Regions from separate parts of the Homo sapiens genome. Here all the other regions are linked to region 4. Evidence: fine-mapped expression QTL. A gene starts in region 4. Each other region holds a variant in brackets. All regions are shown on one strand. Distances are between the middles of the regions.

Region 1 (4,163 bases), 73 kb before region 4:
GTAGTCCAACCAGGATTCCCATCCCAGGGCTGTGGCCTTACAGTGGGAATTGACAATTGTCGCTGGACAATCTGATTTTGTTGGCCTGAACCACCATTCCCATGGACAGTGACCACGTGAGCTCCTAACTGGTAGCTCTGCCTCTTGCCCTGTCCTAGTGGGTGGACAGGTCTTTGCCACCCACCAGTTGGGCAGGCTGGGTAGGGCAGGGCCTGCAGCTCCTGAGAGGGCTATAGTTCGTGGCTGATTCACCTTAGCCATTATCACTCAATTTCTGTAACCTCTTTCCCCTGTGTCACAGAGAAAGCGGTGGGACAGGGCAGACCATGCTCTCTGTGGCCCTGGGTTCTGGCTCCTGCCTGGATTGCTAACTCTGATGTCTGGTATTCTGCTCTTGCAGACACTATTCTCTCCCTCCAGTTCCAGCCGCTCTTGCCCCGCGAGTTGGATCCCTCCCTCTGAAACAGGAGGCGAGACATCTTTCATGGTTCCCCATCTCTGGCGTCCCTCCCTTGCTATTCTGCCTGCCTTCACAGCCCTGCCACACGGCTGGACAGGCCTCAGCCACAGCTCCTGCCTCACTGGCTAATTCCAAGCTCTGCTCACCTGGGTGGGTCCTGACCCTGGGCTTGTTTGGGTGCAGCTGCCACTTGTATTCACTTTGCCCACAAGGTCCTCCCAAGACATATTACCCATCCTGTGGGAGTCTAATGCTTTCTGTCGGATTTTATCAGCTGTGGGTAGGACATGGCATGCCATGATTACAATGAATGATATTAATTGGTTTCATCCTTGTTCGGATGCTGTGGGTTGAAGAATACAGTCTCTGCAGACAGGCCTGGGCTCCCGTCCCACCTCAGCCACATATTACTCTGTGATTCTGGGCAAGCGACTTAACCTCTTTGAGCCTGAGCTTCCTTGTATGTAAAGTGGGTTAGTATCTGTCCCCTAGGAGTGTGGTGAGGGATAAATAAGATGATGTGTGTGAAGTGCTTGGCACAGCACCTGGCACATGGATAGTGCTTAATACTACAGACGATGGATATTGCTATGTCTGAGGAGCTCAGCTAACTGTGTTACAAATATTCTAAACACAGCATATTTCTACTCTGTTGTGGTTAGGTTTTTCTGTTTTTAAAACATTCCGTAATATATAATAATAATAAAATTAATACCTGTATACCGGCTGGGCACAGTGGCTCATGCCTGTAATCCCAGCACTTTGGGAGGCAGAGGCAGGTGAATCACCTGAGGTCAGAAATTTGAGACAAGCCTGGCCAACATGGTGCAATCCCGTCTCTACTAAATATACAAAAAAATTAGCTGGGCGTGGTGGTGCACGCCTGTAATCCCAGCTACTTAGGAAGCTCAGGGAGGAGGATCGCTTCAACCTGGGAGGCAGAGGTTGCAGTGAGCCGAGATTGTGCCACTGCACTCCAGCTTGGGCAACAAAGCGAGGCTCTGTCTCAAAGAAAGAAAGAAAGAAAGAAAGAAAGAAAGAAAGAAAGAAAGAAAGAAAGAAACATCTGTATACCTACTGCTCAACTACAAAATAAAACATTCACAGTTCTTTTGAAGCCTCCTGCGTCTCCTGCCCAATCACATCCCCTCTCTCCACTCCAAGGTCACTGCCATCCTGAGAATATGGTGAAAGTGGAGGCCATGAAAGAGCAGTAAGGTGACACCCCCACCCCGCACAGCCAGTGCTGGTCTAGTAGAATCTAGGACTCCCACACCCTCCAAAGTAAGGCACAGTGCCCCCTTCTCTAGAGTCCATGGGTGCTGAGTGGGGAACCTGGACTTCCGCCTCCACCTCACAGCAACGCGGCAGCACCTCCCCTCCTGTGCTGGAGTAGCAGCGTGGGAAGCAAGGTTTCAGTAAGACCCAGAGTCTCGTAATACCTAACATGTCTGGGTTTCAGTAGAAAATCACCAGTCAAGGACGGGAGCGGTGGCTCATGCCTGTAATCACAGCAATTTTTTTTTTTTTTTTTTGAGACGGAGTCTTGCTCTGTCGCCCAGGCTGGAGTGCAGTGGCGCCATCTCGGCTCACTGCCAGCTCCGCCTCCCGGGTTCACCCCATTCTCCTGCCTCAGCCTCCCGAGTAGCTGGGACCACAGGCGCCCGCCACCACGCCCGGCTAATTTTTTGTATTTTTAGTAGAGACGGGGTTTCACTGTGTTAGCCAGGATGGTCCCCATCTCCTGACCTCGTGAGCCACCTGCCTCGGCCTCCCAAAGTGCTGGAATTGGCCGGGCGCGGTGGCTCACGCCTGTAATCCCAGCACTTTGGGAGGCCGAGGCGGGCGAATCACGAGGTCGGGAGATCGAGAACA[T/G]CCTGGCTAACACAGTGAAACCCCGTCTCTACTAAAAATACAAAAAATTAGCCGGGCGTGGTGGCGGACACCTGTAGTCCCAGCTACTTGGGAGGCTGAGGCAGGAGAATGGCATGAAGCCGGGAGGCAGAGCTTGCAGTGAGCCTAGATCGTGCCACTGCACTCCAGCCTGGGCGATAGAGTGAGACTCCGTCTCAACAAAAACAATAAAAAAGTATTCTTACAGGCATTGGCACAGAGGGACAGAGGGAGGAAGAGAGAGAGAGAGAGAACCAAATAGAAATTTTATTATTTTTGTTGACCAAAAAAAAATTATATATACTTATGGTATACAAATGATGTTTTGATATATGTAGACATTGTGAAATGGCTAAATCAAGCTAGTTAACATATGCAGCACCAAATGGAAATGCTCAAACTGAAAAAGACAATGACTAAAATTTTAAAGCTCAGTGGATGTGCTCAACAGAAGAACGGGAGGACAGAAGAAAGAATCCGTGAACTGAAACACAGAATAGAAATGACCTGATTGGAACCACAGGGAAAATAGACTGAAACTGAACCAGAGAGAAAATAGACTGCAGGAGGGGAAAAAAAACAGTTTCAGGGACCTGTGGGACTACAAGAAAGATGTAATATGTCACTGGCATCTCAAAAGGTGAGAAGAGCACATGAGACGGGCTGTATGGTGGTGGCCGTCTGGAAAATATCATCAGCTACATCCATGTTAATGTATGGAGCTATAGTTTTCTGTTCCACTATAATATAGTATTCTATTGTGTGACTGAACCACAATTCATTTATTCACTCTACTGTAATGGGTACTTGGGCTATTTTGTTTTTGATCTAATAAACAGTGCTCTGTGACTATTCCATCCATATCTCCAGGAGTAGAACTGCTGGGTCTCAGGGTGTGTGAATGTTCACTTTTACCAAATAATGTAAAACTTTTCTTCAAAGTGAGTGTACTCACCTCTAGTCCCACTGCAGTTTAATAGTTACATTTCACCAGCATTTTGTCAGTCTTCTAATTTTTTTCCAAACTAGTGGGCATGAAATGAAAATTTGTGGTTTTATTTACATTTCCCCTTTTTACTAATGAAGGTGAGTATATTTTCATATATTTAATGGGCCATTTGTGTTTTCTGTGAAATACCTGTTTATGGTTTGTTTTGTTTTGGTTTGGTTTGGTTTTTTGAGACAGTGTCTCACTCCGTCGCCCAGGCTGGAGTGCAGTGGTGTGATCTCAGCTCATTGCAACCTCCACCTCCTGGGTTCAAGTGATTCTCCTACCTCAGCCTCCTGAGTAGCTATGATTACAGAGGACTGCCACCACGCCCGGCTAACTTTTGTATTTTTAGTAGAGATGGGGTTTCACCATGTTGGCCAGGCTGGTCTTGAACTCTTGACCTCAAGTGATCTGCCCACCTCAGCCTCCCAAAGTGCTGGAATTAACAGGCATGAGCCGCCACACCCAGCACCTGTTCATATTTTTAAACATTTTTCTATTGAATTTTTTGTCCTCCTAATTGATTTATAGGATCTAGGCACTAATTTTTTTTTTTTTTTTTTTTTTTGGTGAAATGTGTGCAAAGTTTTGTTATGATTTGATGGAAACAGTATTAAATCAATCTGGGGAGAAATAACAGTTTTACAGCATTGAGTCTTTCCACAAACATGTTGTTGCTCACCAATTGGTTTTCTTATTGCCTTTCAGTAAGGTGCTATAATTTTCTACATAAAGATTTTACAGGCTGGGTGTGGTGGCTCACACCTGTAATCCCAGCACTTTGGGAGTCCAAGGCGGGCAGATCATGAGGTCAGGAGA
Region 2 (4,163 bases), 56 kb after region 4:
ATTCAGGCTGATGGGTGGAAACAATCCCAAAGTAGGATCACCTGAGGTCAAGAGGTCGAGACCAGCCTGGCCAACATGGTGAAACCTCGTCTCTACTAAAAATACAAAATTAGCCAGGCATGGTGGTGCACACCTATAGTCCCAGCTACTTGGGAGGCTGAGGCAGGAGAATCGCTTGAACCTGGGAGGCAGAGGTTTCAGTGAGCCAAGATCGCACCACCGCACTCCAGCCTGGGCAGCAAAGTGAGACTCTGTCTCAAAAAAAAAAAAAAAAAAAAAAAAAAAAAAAAAGCCCCTGCATTTCCAGGTGAATTCCCTGAAAGTTTCAAGTAGAAGTTGCAACCTTGGCCCAGAGCAGTGGCTCACGCCTGTAATCCCAACACTTTAAGAGACCGAGGCAGGAGTATTGCTTGAGCCCAGGAGTTCCAGACCAGCCTGGGCAACATAGTAAGACCCCATCCCTACAAAAAAAAAAAAAAAAAATCTAAAAATGAGGTGGGAGGATCACCTGAGCCTGAGAGGTTGAGTCTGCAATGAGCTGTGATAGTGCCACTGCACACCTGCCTGGGTGACAGCAGTGAGACCTTGTCTTAAAAAAAAAAAAAAAAAGTTGTGCTGGGCATGGTTACTCATGCCTGTAATCCCAACACTTTGGGAGGCTGAGGCGGGTGGATCACTTGAGGCCAGGAGTTTGTGACCAGACTGGTCAACATGGCAAAACCCCGTCTCTACAAACAAAACACAAAAATTAGTTGGGCATGGCCGGGCACGGTGGCTCACACCTGTAATCCCAGCACTTTGGGAGGCCGAGGCGGGCAAATCTCCTGAGGTCAGGAGTTCGAGACCAGCCTGGCCAACATGGTAAAACCCCTACTCTACTAAAAAAAAAAAAAATACAAAAAATACAAAAAATTAGCTGGTGTGGTGGTGGGCACTTGCAATCCCAGTTACTCGGGAGGCTGAGACAGGAGAATTGCTTGAACTCAGGAGGCAGAGTTTGCAGTGAGCCCTGATTGCTCCACTACACTCCAGCCTGGGCGTCACAGCAAGATTCTGTCTCAAAAAAATAAAATTTAAATTAAAAAAATAAAAGGAGGCTGGGTGTGGTGGCTCACGCCTGTAATCCCAGCACTTTGGGAGGCTGAGGCAGGTGGATCACAAGGTCAGGAGTTCAAGACTAGCCTGGCCAAGATGGTGAAACCCCGTCTCTACTAAAAAATATATATATACAAAAATTAGCCAGGCATGGTGGTGGGCGCCTGTAATCCTAGCTACTTGGGAGGCTGAGGCAGGGAATTGCTTGAACCCAGGAGATGGAAGTTGCAGTGAGCTGAGATCAGGTCACTGCACTCCAGGCTGGCGACAGAGAGATACTCTGTCTCAAAAAAAAAAAAAAAGGAAGTTGCAACCTTGGGCTAAACTGAGCTACAGATACGTTATTTAAAAGCATGAGCTAGGCCAGGCGCAGTGTCTCACGCCTGTAATCCCAGCACTTTGGGAGGCTGAGGCCAGCAGATCACAAGGTCAGGCGTTTGAGACCAGCCTGGCCAACATGATGAAACCCCATCTCTACTAAAAATACAAAAAAAAATTAGCCAGGCGTGGTGGCAGGCACCTGTAGTTCCAGCTACTCTGGAGGCTGAGGCAGGAGAATGGCGTGAACCCAGGAGGCGGAGCTTGCAGTGAGCCAAGACTCCACCACTGCACTCCAGCCTGGGCGACAGAGCGAGACTCCGTCTCAAAAAAAAAAAAAAAAAAAAAAAAAAAAAAAATTAGCCAGGCGTGGTGGCGGGCACCTGCAATCTCAGCTCCTTGGGAGGCTGAGGAAGAAGAATCGCTT[G/C]AACCTGGGAGGCGGAGGTTGCAGTGAGCCGAGATCGTGCCATTGCACTCCAACCTAGGCGACAGGGCGAGACTCCATCTCAAAAACAAAAAACAAAAACACATGAGTTAGTTCATGTGGTAGATTGTCTGCAGAGATGGCTGTCAACAGTTCCTCCCATTCCTGTATATACATGTCAGGCCTTTCACCAAGAGGTACAGTTTATTTCCTTATCCCTTGAATCTGGTCTAGACATGTATCTTGGTTTGACCAATGGAATGTAGAGGACATGATAATGTGTGACATCTAGGTCTAGGCCTTACAAAGCCTGACAGCTCCCATTTTCACTGTTTTGGGATCAAGCCACTCAAGAAAGAAGCTTAGGCTAGAGTCCATGAAAAGAGAGGCCCAGCCAACACCCCCAGCCTTCCAGCCACCCCAGCAGAGGCACTAGACTTATGAATGAAGCCATCTTGAGTGTTCTGACCTCTGTCAAGCTCCCAGCTGAATGAAGCCATGTGAGTGACCACAGCCAGTATTAAGTGGAGCAGAAGAACTAACTGCCCAGCTGAACCCAGCCAAAACGAAGTCATTAGAAATAATACATCATTGGCTGGACATGGTGCGTCATGCCTATAATCTCAGCCCTTTGGGAGGCATAGGTGAGCAGATCACTTGAGCCCAGGAGTTCAAGACCAGCCTGGGCAACATAGTGAGACCCCATCTCTTTTTTTTGTGTGAGATGGAGTCTTGCTCTGCTGCCCAGGCTACACTGATCTCAGCTCACTGGAACTTCCGCCTCCTGGGTTCAAGCAATTCTCCTGCCTCAGCCTCCCGAGTAGCTGGGATTACAGGTGCCCACCACCATGCCTGGCTAATTTTGTGTTTTTAGTAGAGACAGGGTCCACTATGTTGACCAGGCTGGTCTAGAACTCCTGACCTTAGGAGATCTACCCTCCTCGGCCTCCCAAAGTGCTGGGATTATAGGCGTGAGCCACTGCACCCAGCCCATCTCTATTTTTAAAAAATATATAATAGTAAAAAAACATAAATAATACATCATTGCTATTTTAGCCACTAATTAAGGGGATGTGTGATTTTTGTGTGTGTGTGTGTGTGATGGGAGTCTCGCTGTGTTGCCCAGGCTGGAGGGCAATGGCGCAATCTCCACTCACTGCAAGCTCCGCCTCCTGGGTTCACACCATTCTCCTGCCTCAGCCTCCTGAGTAGCTGGGACTACAGGCACCGGCCACCACCACGCCCGGCTAATTTTTTGTATTTTTAGTAGAGACGGGGTTTCACCGTGTTAGCCAGGATGGTCTCAATCTCCTGACCTCGTGATCCGCCCGCCTCAGCCTCCCAAAGTGCTGGGATTGCAGGCGTGAGCCACCGCGCCTGGCCTGGTGATTTGTGATTTTAAGGTGATTTGTTACTCAGCAATAGATAACTGAAACAGTCGACAACATTTAAAAACCTGAAACTGGCCCACATGGCATGTGCCTGCGAATCCCTTGAGCCCAGGGGTTCAGGTCTGCAGTGAGCTATGACTGCACCAGTGCACTCCAGCTCTGGTCAACAAAATGAGACCTTGTCTCTAAAAGAAATTTAAAAATAAAAAATAGGCTGGGCGCAGTGGCTCACTCCTGTAATCCCAGCACTTTGGGAGGCCGAGGTGGGCGGATCACAAGGTCAAGAGATGGAGACCATCCTGGTGAAACCGCATCTTTACTAAAAACACAAAAATCAGCAGGGCGTGGTGGCATAAGCCTGTAGTCCCAGCTACTCGGGAGGCTGAGGCAGGAGAATCGCCTGAACCCAGGAGGCGGAGAGGTTGCAGTGAGCCAAGGTCGTGCCACTGCCCTCCAGCCTGGGCAACAGAGTGAGACTCTGTCTAAAAACAATTAAACATAAAAAAATAAAAAATAAAAACCTGAAACTGTCACATAAAAACATGAGTTTGGGGACTTCTTTTTTGAAAACACTGGACCTGTGTAGCTCACTTGGACTTCAGGGCAGAATCTTTTTCTTTTCTTTTTTTTTTTTTTTTGAGACGGAATCTGGCTCTGTCGCCCAGGCTGGAGTACAGTGGCGTGATCTCGGCTCACTGCAAGCTCCGCCTCCCGGGTTCACGCCATTCTTCTGCCTCAGCCTCCTGAGCAACTGGGACTACAGGCGCCCGCCACCAGGCCCGGCTAATTTTTTGTGCTTTTAGTAGAGACGGGGTTTCACCATGTTAGCCAGGATGGTCTTGATCTCCTGACCTCGTGATCCACCCGCCTCGGCCTCCCAAAGTGCTGGGATTACAGGCGTGAGCCACCGCGCCCGGCGCAGGGCAGAATCTTAA
Region 3 (4,163 bases), 31 kb before region 4:
ACACACATACAGTGTCATTTAGTCTCCCTCCCTCCACTGGCCACAAGGACAGTGGGTTGTTTTTTGTTTGTTTGTTTGTTGGATATTGTGTTTTGTTTTGTTTTTAGTACACACCACCTTTGGAAAAGACCGTGGTTTTTACAGTTTTTAATGGTGTTGATTTTTCTTCACATTGTTACTTTTGTCACCCCTTTTCCAGAATCAGGGGTGTGGTCAAGGCCTTCAGCACAACCTAGATTCCCCTTCTCAGCATCCTGGCTTCCTCCTAGACTCCAGCTTCTCAATCCAGACCCAATCTGTCCTGCACATACCGCCCCGCTGATCTTGACCGCACGCCACACTCACCATGTGCCTCCCCTACTGAACAGCTCCCAACCTCCCCAGCACGTGGAGCCGGAGTTCCTCCCTGGGTGTCCTACATCAAGCACATGGCAGCATGTCTTCACCCTTTGTATCCTTGGTCCTCCTGTAAGCCCCAGCCCAAGTTCTGTTCCGTCCAGGGGACCCATCCTGACTGCTCAATTCTGAAGTAGAGTCCATGCCACACAGTCTCACTTTCATTGTTTGCTGTTATTTGATCACTGTGAATCTTTCTCCCATAAGAACATAAGTTCCTTGAGATCAGGGATCTCAAAGGTTTATTAAAAGCACACAAGGATACTCAAAATTCATTTTCCTCTGTTAGCTTGTGACAAGAAAAGCAGACCCATTTCTACTCCAAAGGCCTTGATGAATATCTTCAGGCCAGGCACCGTGGCTCATGCCTGTAATTACAGCACTTTGGGAGGCCAAGGCAGGAGCATCACTTGAGTCCAGGAGTTCATGACCAACCTGGGCAACATGGTAAAACCCCATCTCTGCAAAAAATAAAAAATTAGCCAGGCATGGTGTCATGTGCCTGTAGTCTCAGCTACTGGGGAGGCTAAGGTGGGAGGATCAACTGAGCCCTGGAGTTCAAGGCTACAGTGAGCTGTGATTGTGCTGCTGCACTGCAGTCAGCCCAGGTAACGGAGTGAAACCCAGTCTCAAAAACAAAAAGAAAATTTCCAGATGCCTCTGCCAAGTCTGTGTGTTTGTTTGCAGTAACTCCCTGCCATCATTTTTAAGAACTTCCAGATAAAGAACAGAAAGAGGCCAGGCTCACACCTGTAATCCCAGCACTTTGGGAGGCTGAGGCAGGTGGATCACTTAAGGCCAGGAGTTCAAGACTAGCCTGGCCAACATGGTGAAACCCCGTATCTACCAAAAATACAAAAATTAGCCGGGCCATGGTGGCGGGTGCCTGTAGTCCCAGTTACTCGGGAGTCTAAGATGGGAGGATCACTTGAGCCCCAGAAAGTCAAGTCTGCAGTGAGCTGTGATTGTGCCACTACACTCCAGCCTGGATGACAGAGTGAGGCCCTGTCTTAAAAAACAAACAAAAAGAGCAGAAAAATCTTTTTATATTTTTATTTATTATTATTAAATTTTTTAGAGACAGAGTCTCACTCCTCACCCAGGCCGGAGTGCACTGGCATGACCATAGCTCACTGCAGCCTTGGACTCCTGGGCTCAAGCAATCCTCCCACCTCAGCCTCCTAAGTAGCTGGGAATACAGGCGTGTGCCACCATGTCCAGTTAGTTGTGTTTCTTTTGGTAGAGATGGAGTCTCACTGTGTTGCCTAGGCCTGTCTCAAACTTCTGGTCTTAAACTAATCCCTCTGCCTTGGCCTCCCAAAGTGTTGGGATTACAGGTGTGAGCCACTGTGCCTGACCACAAGGAACTCTTTTTAAAATGTATTTATTGATTTTGTGGTAGATAGTATATTCATCTGGCCCAACAATTAAAAATGAAGTCACCTCCTATCTTTTTTTTTTTTTTTTTTGAGACGGAGTCCTGGCCTGCCTCCTATCTTTGTTTCTCAACCACTCAGTTAGTTCCCCTGCCAAGAGAAAAACAATAGACAATGTTTTTCTCTGTTTATCTTTTTAAAGGCATTTGATGCACACACAAGCCAATAAGAATATATCCTCCTTTTCTTTCCCCACCCCCATTTTTTCTGCACAAGCATGCATGTGACATTCTTCTGCACCTTGCTTTTTCTGTTTAACAATGTACCTCAGAAGTCTTCCCAAATCAGCTTCCTCAACACTTTGTTTTATGGTTGTGTAGAGTTCCAGTGTATGAAGGAACACACTAATTTATTTATCCAATCTCCTGGCTGTTAGATAGTGAGGGTGTTTCCAGTCTTTTAGCACCATATGCGAGGCTGCAATAAATCTCCTGTTCAGACATAATGTCATACAACTGAGTGTATCTGTGGGACAAATCCCTAGAAGCAGAATTGCTAGGTCAAAGGGTAAGGTGCATATGTAATTTTTTTTTTTTTTTTTT[G/TG]AGACAGAGTCTTTCTCTGTCACCTAGGTTGAAGTGCAGTGGTGCAATCTTGGCTCACTGCAACCTCCACCTCCCAGGTTGAAGCGATTCTCCTGCCTCAGCCTCCTGAGTAGCTGGGATTACAGGCATGCACCATCACACCTGACTTTGTATTTTTAGTAGAGACGGGGTTTCGCCATGTTGCCAGGCTGGTCTCAAACTCCTGAGCTCAGCCAATCTGCCCGCCTTGGCCTCCCAAAATGCTGGGATTACAGGCGTGAGCCACTGTGCCTGGCCTGGTCTTTCAGTACCATATACAAGCCTGCAATAAATCTGTTTAGACATAATGTCATAGAAGTGAGTGTATCTGTGGGACAAATCCCTAGAAGTAGAATTGCTGGGTCAAAGGGTAAGGTGCATACGTAGTTTTGATAGATACTCCGAGATTGTTCTCCAGTGAAGTTGCCATCAATTTACGCTCCTACCAGCAATGCATGAGGGCACCAATTCCCCACACCCCCACCAGTCTAACAGGCAAAAGTTTTAGGTCTAGCTTGATTTGCACCACTCTCCTCATGAATGTGGCTGAGTAGCTGTTTAAGGGCCCTTTGTGTGACTGGGTTTTTGGTTTTGTTTTTTTTTTTGTTTTTAATGTGAATTCTTCGTATCTTCTGCTCACTTTTTAATACATGTTCTTGGTCTTTTTTTCCTTTTTCTTTTTCTTTCTTTTTTTTTTTTTTTTTTTTTATTGAGATGGAATCTTGCTCAGTCACCCAGGCTGGAGTTCAGTGGCATGATCTCAGCTTACTGCAACCCCCGCCTCGCAGGTTCAAGCAATTCTCCTGCCTGAGCCACCCAAGTAGCTGGGACTACAGGCATGCACCACCATGTCTGGCTAATTTTTTGTATTTTAGTAGAGACAGGGTTTCACCAGGTAGGCCAGGTGGGTCTCAACTCCTTGAGCTCAGGCAATCTACCCACCTCGGCCTCCCAAAGGGCTAGGATTACAGGTGTGAGCTATTGTGCCCGGCCCTTGGTCTTTTTATCATCAATGCATAGGAGTTCTTCATATATTAGGAGAATCAGCCCTTTGTTTATGAGCTGCAGATAATTTCCCCAGCATGTTGTCCTTTGACCTTGACTTTGGGTTGTTGCTCAGTGAACCTATTTTTCTATAGTCAAATTTATCAATCTTTGCTTTTGTGGTTGCTAAATTTTGTCTCTTGCACAGAAAGGAGCAGGAACCAATAGCCCCAACACACACACCACTTTTTTGATCAGTACAAGCTTGGAGTGACTTACTGGGTTCTGTAAGGAACAGGACAACTCCTGCTCTCCAAGAGAACCCAATGTTAGGAGGACACAAAGTAAACTAACAATTACAATTCTGTTGTAATAAATAGTGGTGGCCGGGCACGGTGGCTCACTCCTGTAATTCCAGCACTTTGGGAGGCCGAGGCAGGAAGATCATGAGGTCAGGAGTTCGAGACCAGCCTGGCCAACATGGTGAAACCCCGTCTCTATTAAAAATACAAAAAAAAAAAAAAAAAAAATCAGGCCAGGTGCGATGGCTCACGCCTGTAATCCCAGCACTTTGGGAGGCTGAGGCAGGTGAATCACGAGGTCAGGAGATTGAGACCATCCTGGCTAACACAGTGAAACTCCGTCTCTATTAAAAATACAAAAAAAAAATTAGCCGGGCGTGGTGGCGGGCGCCTGTAGTCCCAGCTACTCAGGAGGCTGAGGCAGGAGAATGGCGTGAACCAGGGAGGCGGAGCTTGCAGTGAGCCAAGATCATGCCACTGCACTC
Region 4 (4,163 bases):
ACAGTACTTAGCCTGCTTAGCAAAGCTGTGCTAAGGATCAAACCTACCTACCTTCCTAAAAAAGAGGGTGTGTGTGTGTATGTGTGTGCTTAATATACTTGAAGAATAGAAAGTGGATCATTTAACCAACATTTGGAGGCGAGGTCCAATCAGTTCAACCTGAGAATTCCAGGAAGGGTGATGGCTGGCAGGATTCCTTCATTTGCTTGCAAAGAGGATCAAATTCCAAACCAGTAAGTCTATTACTGTAACCAGAACCTGTTGGAGTCACCTATTTGCACAGGTAGCTGTAGTACCTGACTTCCCCGGGCTCTGCTGAATTCACAGGAACTCCTGAGCAGCAAAAAGAGTTGGCAAGTGGGCAGGTTATAGGGCTACACGCTTTGATTACTGAGCCTCAAGATCCCAGGGCACTAGCCAAGCAGGTAAGCCACAGCCAGAAAAATGGCAGCTTCTCTATCCTCCAGAAAGACAGGGACAGACAGAGCAAAGAGCCTCAGCTTGTGATGTTTAAGTCTCCTCTGATGAGTTTAATTCAGGGCAGAGTTTTAGGTTTCAGGGATACCTGCCAGTCCCTATATGGGCAAAGGTGGAGCTGGCACAGAACCAGACTAAAGACAGAGCAAGGAAAGCAAGGCCAGACAGGGTATACGTTCAAGCTCAATACAGGAAGGATGAGAACTGAGCCTAAGACAAAGCAGAACCAAACAAGGGAAGTGGGTGGTGGGTAGGCAGGGATCCAAGATCCATTATGAGCCTGAATCCTTTAGCCTAACATCAAAGCCCCTCACTACCGGCTGCCCAGGCTTCTGCTCCAGCTTACACCTGTAATCCCAGCAATTTAAGAGGGCAAGGTGGGAGGATTGAGCAAACCCAGGTACTCGAGACCAGCCTGGGTAACATAGCAAGACCCCATACAAAAAATTTAAAAGTTAGTGAGGTGTGGTGGCACATGCCTGTGGTCTCAACTACTTGGGAGGCTGAGGCAGGAGGATCGCTTGAGCCTAGAAGGCTGCAGTGAGCCATGTTTGTGCCACTGCACTCCAGCCTGGGTGACAGAGAGAGACCATTTCAAAATATAATAATAGTACCACAAAAAAAAAAAAGTGTGTAGCTATTTACATAGCATTTACACTGTATCAGGTTTTATAAGTAATCTAGAGATTATTTAAATTATATGGAGGGCGTGGTGGCACGTGCCTGCAGTCCCAGCTACCTGGGAGGCTGAGGTGGGAGGATTATCTGAGCCCAGGGAGTTCGAAGATGCAGTGAGCTATGATTGCACCACTACACTCCAGCCTGGGAGACAAGAGTGAGACCCTGACTCAAAAAAAAAAAAAGAAAAGAAAAAAGAGTATACAGGAGGGTGATGTGGTGGCTCACACCTGTAATCCCAGCATTTTGAGAGGCCAAGGAAGGAGGATAGCTTGAGCCAGGAGTTTGAGACCAGCCTGGGCAACATGGTGAGACCCTGTCTCTACAAAAATGAAATAAAATAAAAATTAGCCGGGTATGGTTGTTTATGCCTGTGGTTCCAGCTACACAGGAGGCTGAGGCAGGAGGATCCCTTGAGCCCAGGAGGTCGAGGCTGCAGTGAGCCATGTTCCTGCCACTGCACTCCAGCCTGGGTCACAGAATGAGACCTTGTCTCAAAAAAAAAAAGTATACAGCAATCCCCTGCGGATACTGAGGGATAAATGTATCTAACACACACACTCACACACGTGGGCTACTAGAAAGGCAGTGACTGCGAATTGCTACTTCCCAGCCACTGTGAGAGATGTGGAAACCCCTGCTCCAGGACAACCACCACTTCCCCAACTTGGCAACCTCTCCTGCTCACCATCTAGCACCTGCTTCCAAATACTTCAAGGACAGCAGGAAGTTCTTTTCTGACAAGATTTGGCCTAATTTTTAAATAGCACTCAGCACTTTTTGGCAGGCCTAGGGCTACTTCCAACATCCCATGGCTTTCCTTTTTTAATTTTACCAACTTTTTAAATACACTTTGTACTTTGGGCAGCCCGGGTAAGCGTTCAGTGTGAGGAGCTGACACGGCCATCATTTAAACTAGATTAAACGACACTGGACAAATAATCGCAGAGCAGCACAAAGTCGGGCTGGACGGGTACAGATGCAAACCCTCCACTCAGGGCTCGGGGGTCCCTCCTGCTCCAGGCGGCCCCACCCGTACAGCCGGGAAAGTGAGGTCGCACAGATGGACGGCCGCCTACCCACGCACAGTCGCAAACAGAGCTTCATGGGCACACAGGGGAAAATAAGGACACACACAGACAGCCGTGGACCCACGCTCGCGGACACAGCTCCCCGAACCTCCCCTCCCGCGCCGCCGCGAGAACCCAGCTTCCCAGCCCCCTTCCACTGCTCACCCGCGCCAGGCGCGTCTCGGGGCCGCTCCCAAATATCGCGGTATCTCTGCCGCTCTCCCGCGGAATCTGACTGGCACGCCTCACGAGAGCACCGGGCTGGCTGTATGTCGCGCAGCCTTCTGGGAGCTGTAGTCCACTTCTCTGCCTTCCGGGAGTTGTAGTCCACTGGGGAAATCCTGGAGCAAACCCTGGCCCTGTTCTTTGTATTGCTGGGACTCTCGATAGGGGCTGGCATAACTGTCCGACCTCCTTTCCTCACTCCTATCAGCCCCACACACACTGCTTGTTGCTTGGGGCCTTTTTTTTTTTTTTTTTTTTTTTGCTGTTGTCCCAGGTTTATTGAAAATATTACAGTATCTCAAAAAGATTCAAACAGCTTCCACGTGGCGTTTTGAAATTCATCCCCACTGTTGGCTGAGTGACCTGCAGGTTGGACAGACTGCCAAAGTCCAAAAACATCAGCATTTCCTTAATGTCAGGATATGTTAATACTTCAATGATTTCCTGATCCAGGGCTGAGACCTCAGGAACATGATTATCTCTCCTTTCTCTCTTCTCCTCCTGCAACTTGATGCAGATACCTCTCACTGAGCGCTTCAAATCAGCTTCATCACATGCATGTTGTAGCCTGCTATCTTGTTGGGGAGCTGTTTTTTTTTTTGTTTTTTTTTTTTTTTTTGAGACAGGGTCTGGCTCTGTCACCCAGACTGGAGTGCGCAGTGGTGCTATCTCCACTCACTGCAACCTCCACCTTTTGGGCTTAAGCCATCCTCCTATCTCAGCCTATGGAGTAGCCAGGACTACAGGAGTGCACCATCATGCCAGACTAATGTTTGTATTTTTTGTAGAGACGGGTTCTCACTCTATTGCCCAGGCTGGTCTCAAACTCCTAGGCTCAAACAATCCGCCCACCTTGGCCTCCCAAAGTGCTGGGACTACAGGAGTGAGCCACCACGCTCGGCCCTGGGGAGCATTTTGCTGGAAATAATGGTGATCTCCTTGCACATGTGTTGTTTGTGTGGAAGTTGCTGCCCGGGTGTGTGTATTACTTTTTTATGACGAAGTATAGAAAAGGGCTATCTTCATGGTATTAGTGTGAATGGGGCCCATGTTGGCAGGTCCTTAGTAAAAGAGGGCTCGTGGCACTTAATATTTACCAAGCCTCTTCTATTTTAGGTGCACAGGATACAGAGATAAATCAGATGCGTCCCTGTTCTTGAGACAAACAGGGACACAGAAAATGACAGGGTAAGATCCTCCATGAGGAAGCAACACCTCTAGGCAGGAAAGCCTTCTTGAAGGAGTGACTTGAAATGAATCTTGAAGGACAGCCAGGAGGTTAGATAGAGGATCCCAATAGCGATCCAGGTGGAAGGCATCAAATGGGCAAAGGGAAGGCGGCAGAAGAACACACACTGGCATGCTTCCCTGCCCCCTTCATTTTCTAGCCTTCACAGGCCCCAGGAACCTCTGTATTCATTGAGGTGGCTGAACCAGCTGCGGGTCCCCTGCCCTGAGCTGAGGTGGGGCCTCTGCTCTACCCCCGCCCTTAGCCGCAGTGGACCATCTGGGCCAAACCATCCCTTACGCAGGGATCCAGCCGTGTCTTTTTTTTTTGAGATGGAGTCTTGCTGTGTCGCCCAGGCTGGAGTGCAGTGGTGCGATCTCGGCTCACTGCAAGCTCCGCCTCCTGTGTTCACGCCATTCTCCCGCCTCAGCCTCCCGAGTAGCTGGGACTACAGGTGCCTGCCACCTCGCCCGCCTAATTTTTTG

Which allele goes with the higher level. Positions count from the first base shown, and alleles are read on the strand shown. Sizes are in standard deviations (SD) of each study's normalised expression. Not every link is listed here.
With allele T in place of G in region 1, the expression in cerebral cortex of the gene that starts at base 2,427 in region 4 is higher (small effect, 0.39 SD a copy in GTEx).
As copies of C replace G in region 2, the expression in substantia nigra of the gene that starts at base 2,427 in region 4 goes up (moderate effect, 0.61 SD a copy in GTEx).

The links. PIP is the estimated chance that this variant, and not a neighbour inherited with it, causes the effect. A credible set is the group of variants that fine-mapping cannot tell apart.
Region 1: its variant is the best candidate, but not a certain one, in a credible set for the expression of PPCDC in cerebral cortex (GTEx, PIP 0.84).
Region 2: its variant is the best candidate, but not a certain one, in a credible set for the expression of PPCDC in substantia nigra (GTEx, PIP 0.80).
Region 3: its variant is the best candidate, but not a certain one, in a credible set for the expression of PPCDC in whole blood (INTERVAL, PIP 0.57).

Annotation. Positions count from the first base shown.
Region 1 is chr15:75,094,560-75,098,722 of GRCh38, reverse strand. No RefSeq gene overlaps it. Among named protein-coding and RNA genes, the nearest start is that of PPCDC, 73 kb to the right of the region's middle. The variant T/G (reference allele first, on the strand shown) is at 2,336.
Region 2 is chr15:74,965,753-74,969,915 of GRCh38, reverse strand. No RefSeq gene overlaps it. Among named protein-coding and RNA genes, the nearest start is that of RPP25, 11 kb to the right of the region's middle. The variant G/C (reference allele first, on the strand shown) is at 1,841.
Region 3 is chr15:75,052,482-75,056,644 of GRCh38, reverse strand. No RefSeq gene overlaps it. Among named protein-coding and RNA genes, the nearest start is that of PPCDC, 31 kb to the right of the region's middle. RefSeq lists an enhancer at 4,146-4,163. The variant G/TG (reference allele first, on the strand shown) is at 2,375.
Region 4 is chr15:75,021,854-75,026,016 of GRCh38, reverse strand. It overlaps PPCDC (phosphopantothenoylcysteine decarboxylase), which reads right to left and starts at 2,427. Exons shown (of 6, transcript NM_021823.5): 1 at 2,391-2,427.